2 separate regions of the Homo sapiens genome follow, and region 1 is linked to region 2. The links come from fine-mapping of genetic effects on gene expression. A gene starts in region 2. The other region holds a variant in brackets. All regions are shown on one strand. Distances are between the middles of the regions.

What was found.
Region 1: its variant is fine-mapped to the expression of P2RY6 in tibial artery (GTEx, PIP above 0.99).

Annotation. Positions count from the first base shown.
Region 1 is chr11:73,244,811-73,247,721 of GRCh38, forward strand. No RefSeq gene overlaps it. Among named protein-coding and RNA genes, the nearest start is that of P2RY6, 26 kb to the right of the region's middle. The variant C/CT (reference allele first, on the strand shown) is at 1,635.
Region 2 is chr11:73,270,587-73,273,497 of GRCh38, forward strand. P2RY6 (pyrimidinergic receptor P2Y6) reads left to right here and starts at 1,752. Exons shown (of 3, transcript NM_001277204.2): 1 at 1,752-1,880. RefSeq lists enhancers at 1-197, 198-990.

The sequences.
Region 1 (2,911 bases), 26 kb before region 2:
AAAAAACAACAGGAAGAGGGATTGTGAGGACATGAAGGTTGCAATTTTAAATAGGGTGGTTGGGTGAAAAGGAGGCATTTGGGCAAATACTTGAAGGAGGTGTGGGAGTTAGCCAAATGGAAAAGAGCTCCCAGAAAGAGGGACCAGTAAGTGCAAAGCCCTAGGGCCTGCAGCTGGGGTGGAGTGGGCCTGGAGGGGAGGAGGGGAGGCCAGAGGTCGGGGGAGATCTGGTAGGACATTGAATGAGAAGGGAAGCCATGCAAGGTCTGAGGAGGAGACAGAATCTGACTTACATTTTAGAAGGATTGGTCTGTCTGCTGTGCTGAGAATAGACCACAGTGGGGCAAGGTCAGAAGTAATGACTACAGGGAGGAGCTGTTGCAGAAATCCAGGTGAGAGCTCAGGCTGAGGACTGGGACCAGGTGGTAGCAATGGAGGTGGGGAGAAGTGGACCAATGCCAGATGTATTCTGAAGGAAGAGTGAATGGGATCCTTTATGGATTGGATGGAAGGAGGTGATAAAAGAAGAGGGGGTGCAGAGGATGCCTACAATGTTTTGTAGACAGTGACCCTGAGATCTAGAGAAGATGTAGTGTGAGGCCACACAGCTAGTCAGTGGGTGGGGGTGGAGGAGAGGAGGATGGGACCAGGGTGGCGGGAAGGTCCTCAGGTCTAGGACAGCATCTGGGAGAGGATAGGGGGAAGGACTCTGGCATAGCTGGTCACAAACCAGCCCCAGGGCAACTGAGCATTGATTTGATCAATGGCTTTTTCCTCTTCCCTTGAATTCCCCTATGATGGCCTTTTAATTGGGTCCATTTGTTCCAAGGCCGTGGGCTGAGCTGAGCAGACGCCAAATGATATGCCTATTATTAAATAGATTAGGAAATGGCCCTACATCTTGGGCGGCCAGAAAAACCAGAGTGACTGAACAGTGTCCCTGAGGAGTAACACGTGTATTGTGGAATACTGGATGTATTGCAGAATCCCTTCCAGGCACCTTGCCTTTCCTATGCTGTCCCTGCGTCTACAGAATCCTTCTGACTTCCTTGCTCACCTGAAATGTGTCTCCTCCTCCAAGATTCACTTCAAATCCCCTCCTCGGTGAAGGAGCTGAAGGAGCGCGCTAATCGCCACCCCTCCCTCAGCCTGCCTGAGCTACTGCCACAGAGAACTCACACATCTGCCTGGCAAGAGATCCAACCTGAATTGGAGGGTCTGCCCTAGGGGACACTGTCCAAGTCAGGGTTGTCCAGGGAACAGGATTACCCAAAGAACATTTAAATAACAATCCCACTTCAGTAAAAAAAAAAAAAAAGATGTCTCCATTTCCTGAGCTGGAGTCAAAAAGGGTGGCTGGGAGGCAGCAGAGAAGAGGAGTGAGTGTAAATTCCGTGTGATGGAAATGAGTGGCAATTTAAATTCGACTGGAGAAAAAGAAAACTTTCATGTCAGTATCAAACTCAGACCATTTTTAAAAATCGGTTTCTTCCATTTTAGACATTATATACTGGTTTCCTTTTGTGAAATGAGGCTTTAGTTCTCTTCCTTCTCTCATTCTCCCATTGCAATTTTTGATTAAATATTCAGTGCTTCCATTTTTATGATGTCAAAAATGTTGCTCACAGTGACAT[C/CT]TTAGGGCATTCTATGTTTATATTTTCTTTCTTGCATAACTTTTTGTTTTTCCTGGAATTAATAACTGCCTCACTGTACATTCCTAAGAAGGACATATTCTAAGGACAAAGAGAACTAACTCTAAAGAAATCTGAAGCAGTCTTTGTAATCATATTACAAGTACGGTTACCCCTGAACATCATGGGCTTGAACTGCATGGGTCCACATATATGCAGATTTTCTTCTGCCTCTGCCACTCCGGAGATAGCAAGACCAATCCCCACCTTCCACCTTTTCCTCAGCCTACTCAATATGAAGATGAGAGGGATGAAGAACTTTATGATGATCCACCTCCACTTAATGAGCAGTAAATATATTTTCTCTTCCTTATGTTTTCTTAATAACATTTTCTTTTCTCTAGCTTAATTTATTATAAGAATACAGTATATGATATATGCAACATACAAAATATGTGTTAATCAACTATTTATATTTTCGGTAAGGCTTTGGTCAACAGTAGAATATTGGTAGTTAAGTTTTGGGGGAGTCAAAAGTTATATGTGGATTTTCAACTGCGTGAGGGGTTGACATCCCTAACCCCTGCACTGTTCAAGGGTCAACTTTAATACTATTGATGGTGTTAGTTTGAAACTATTACATGTAGTAGGATATAATGAAAATCTAATTATGTTAATGTCACTGGAAACCAACATTTTCAACATAAGAGAAAAGAGATACGAATATAAAATCAAAGAAGAAAAAACTACTATCAGTATAGTCTTGGATTTGGAAACATCTGTATAAACTCATGATGCTTTTTTCTCTTTAAAAAGTATTCTCTATTTCTAACTTCTAAAAAGGCCTGGGAACAATAACTAGCCCTGTGATGCTGAGCACCTCTAGTACCCGCTTCAAAGGTTCTAAATGTATTTCCTATTAAAAGGAACAAGGGCTTCTTGGAGAAATGGCTGATTCTGGGTTCGTGGCAGGAAATGCATAAGATGGGTTCAGAATATTTTGTCATACAAAAAGCAAGTTGTCAGCACTACTAACGTTGTGTTTAAAGGACATAAAAACCAACTTGAGGACTGTGCTGCACAAAGATGGGGTATTTTAAGTATCAAAAAGAATAATGCCTACGATGGATTGAAACATACAAATCTGAAACTTGTGTTTCAATCTATGAGTTTATAATGATACTAAGAGCAAACAAACAAGCAAACGTGTAGGTCTGTTCTGTAGGTTGGTAGCTTATCAATGTATTATTCTGAAAGGCAGGTTAAAAGGAAAAGAATCT
Region 2 (2,911 bases):
GGGATATTGGGATTGGGGATTGGTTGAGGGATGTGCTCCCTCTCTGGACCACAGAGGAAGCAGAGAGCTTCCCCAGGGCTGGGAGTGGGGCACAAGCTCGGGATGCTCCCTGCCAAAGCGTTGGTGGCCCTGAGTTGCTGCCTGTGCCCAGGGAGTCCCAGTCTTCGCACTAGCCTGCTGCTGAGATCCACTGAGGCAGAGCCTGGCACAGAGTGGGGGCTTGGGGCCTGGGGGAGGGTCTCCTCCAGGCTAGGTGGCTGGGAGAGGGTGATCTGGCAAATCTAGATGGGGCCTGTCCACCTGTCCGAGGCTGCAGCCCCCTAGCTCTCCGCCCCTTACCCTCCTTTATGTTTCTATATCGCTGCTCTTATCACTATCTGGCCTGCTATATATTTACTCATTAACCAAAAGAAACTAATCTCCCCTGCTAGACTACAGGTGTCTCAAGGGCAGGACTTTGTTTTTTGACCTCAAGTGCGTTGAACATTACCCGAACAGAGTAGGTGGCCAATAAGTACCTGTAAGAAAGAAGAGGAGGAGGAGGAAGCAGGAGAGTCATCTTACAGACGGGGAGGGCCCACCATGGGCCCAGGTAGAGCCGCCCGGGCTGCCTTCTCCTCATCAAGCCCAAGCTCAAGGATGGATTGGCGCTGGGGAGGGGAGGATTGCCTGGGGTCAGCCTTTCCCCCCCGGCATCACCCTCCATCTTCGGTGCTGTAGCAGGACGAGCCGCGGACAAAACCCTTCAGACACTGAGATAGTGAAGGGAGTGGCTTTAATCAGCTGGGAGCATCGGCAGGCTAGCATCTTAAAATCTGAGCTCGTCAGGTGCTCAACTTCTGTCCCTTTTAAGGGCTCACAGCTCTAAGGGGGTCCACGTGAGAGGGTCGTGATCAACTGAACAAGCCAGGGGGTACATGATAGGGACTGCGAGCACCGGTGGTCAGAGTGAAACAGAACAGAACGGGAGGTTTCACAATGTCCTTCCATACAATCTCTGGAATCTATAGATAACAACAGCTGCTAGGTCAGGGGTCGAATTTTAACTACCAGGCTTAGGTCAGGCAGGCCCAGGCCTGGTTTCGGGTCTGGTTCCTTGGTTTCGGGTCTGGTTCCTTGGTTTCAGGTCTGGTTTTTAGGCGCCGGGCTACCTGCCTTTAGTTTCGCTTCTCTTTCCTTTTCCGAGTATAAAACAGTATGAGAGGGTCTCTCTCCTCCCTCAGTGCCATCCTCATCCCTGGGTGGGAGTTGTCTGGATCCATAGGGTTGGAGCCACAGATAACAGAGCCATTAATCTCGGGGTCTCAGCCTCTCTTAACGGACCTTCCAGGCACTGCTGAGAAAACCAGGTTAATGGTTTCCTGCGGCAGCAATGAGCAGAAGCAGGGCCATCTCCAGACTCCAGAGAAGCCAGGAGAGGGCTGGGGTGATAATGGGGAGGAGGATAAAAAACAGCCACCCAATGCGTGCCTTCCCTGTGCCAGGCCCTTGTCCTGAAATGTTATCTCACTCCATCCTCCCAACAGTCCCTTGGGCTAAATTGGTGATGCTGCTTGTTTGAGTGAGCAAACAGAGGGTGAATGAAGTGACTTGCGGGCAGCTGGGTAGAGGATGAGTCAGCATTGGTGTAAAGGACTGGAGCTTCAGGGTTCTCGGGATTCGAGTCCTGGCCCTGCTGCTTGCCAGCTCTGTGCTGTGGCAAGTTACTTCCTCTCCCCAGGTCTCTCGGTTTCCTCATCTGCTGCCTCTCCAGACTTCTGCCAGAACATTGCACGCGACAGTTTCAGGCACAGAACTGACTGGCAGCAGGGGCTGCTCCACGAGTGGGAATTTGCTCCAGCACTTCACGGACTGCAAGCGAGGCACTTGCTAACTCTTGGGTGAGTTTTCTGGGTCCATGCCTGGAAGGGCTTGCGCCCCTCAGCTCCCCTAGGAGCTTCCTGAGTAACTGCAGTCCACTTGCAGCCACCGAGGCTCATCACAGGCAAGAGTGGCAGTAGGGCAGGCACTGGGGTCCTCCTCCTTCCTCCGCCTGGCTATGCCTGGAGCCTGCAGACTGCACAGCATGGAGGGACGAGGCACCGCAGGACGGGGTCAGTGGGGGCGGGGAGGAGATGGACACATTGGTGCTGCGCCGTGCCTTGCTGGAGAAGTGGAATAGCTCAGTCAGGATTCGGAGCCACAAAGGTCTTGGTTGGAGTGCAAATGGCTGGCAAGGGCACTTTTCCTCTCTGGGCCTCAATTTCTTACTCTCTAAAATGGGGGCAACCGTGGTCTCTCCCTGCGTATGTGAACACTGCTAAGTGTAGTATCTGGAGAGGGGTCCTCACGGAGGAGGCTGGGCCCTGCCCTCAGAGCTCCCCAGGAACTTTGGTTGAGGGAATGAGTAGGAAGGATTAGTGATCAAATAATTGTCCACAGAGGAGGCCCTTGGGAAGCCTCTCACCTCTGCCATTCCAGCTAAATCTTAAGACAGCCTGGAGCTGGCCCCGTGAGAGTGGTTTGGAAAAAAAAAAAAAAAAAGTCCCTGAGTCCAGGTGTGACTTGTTAAGGGTGAAAGGGCCTATCTGGGAGAGCTGGGTTAAAACTTTTCCAGAGTTTCTATTGCCATTCAGCTCTGCTGACACCGACACAGAGAAAACAGGCAGCCCAGCCCATGCGTTCAGCCCCGGCCTCTTGAAGATATTTGGGACTCTCATCTCTTGCCAGCTCTAGAATGGGTCATATTCAGGGAAACTCTCCACCCCTCAGTATCAATGAGATGAAAAATGAGAAGGCCCTTTGCAAACTATAAAGTGTTGTGCCCCAGAAGGTGCATCTGTGTGTGTGCCAAGCCCCTGGGTGTGTACGTGAGAGTGAGAATGCCCAGCTTCCAGTGTATGTGTGTGTGTGTGACTGGCTGGGTGGGTGG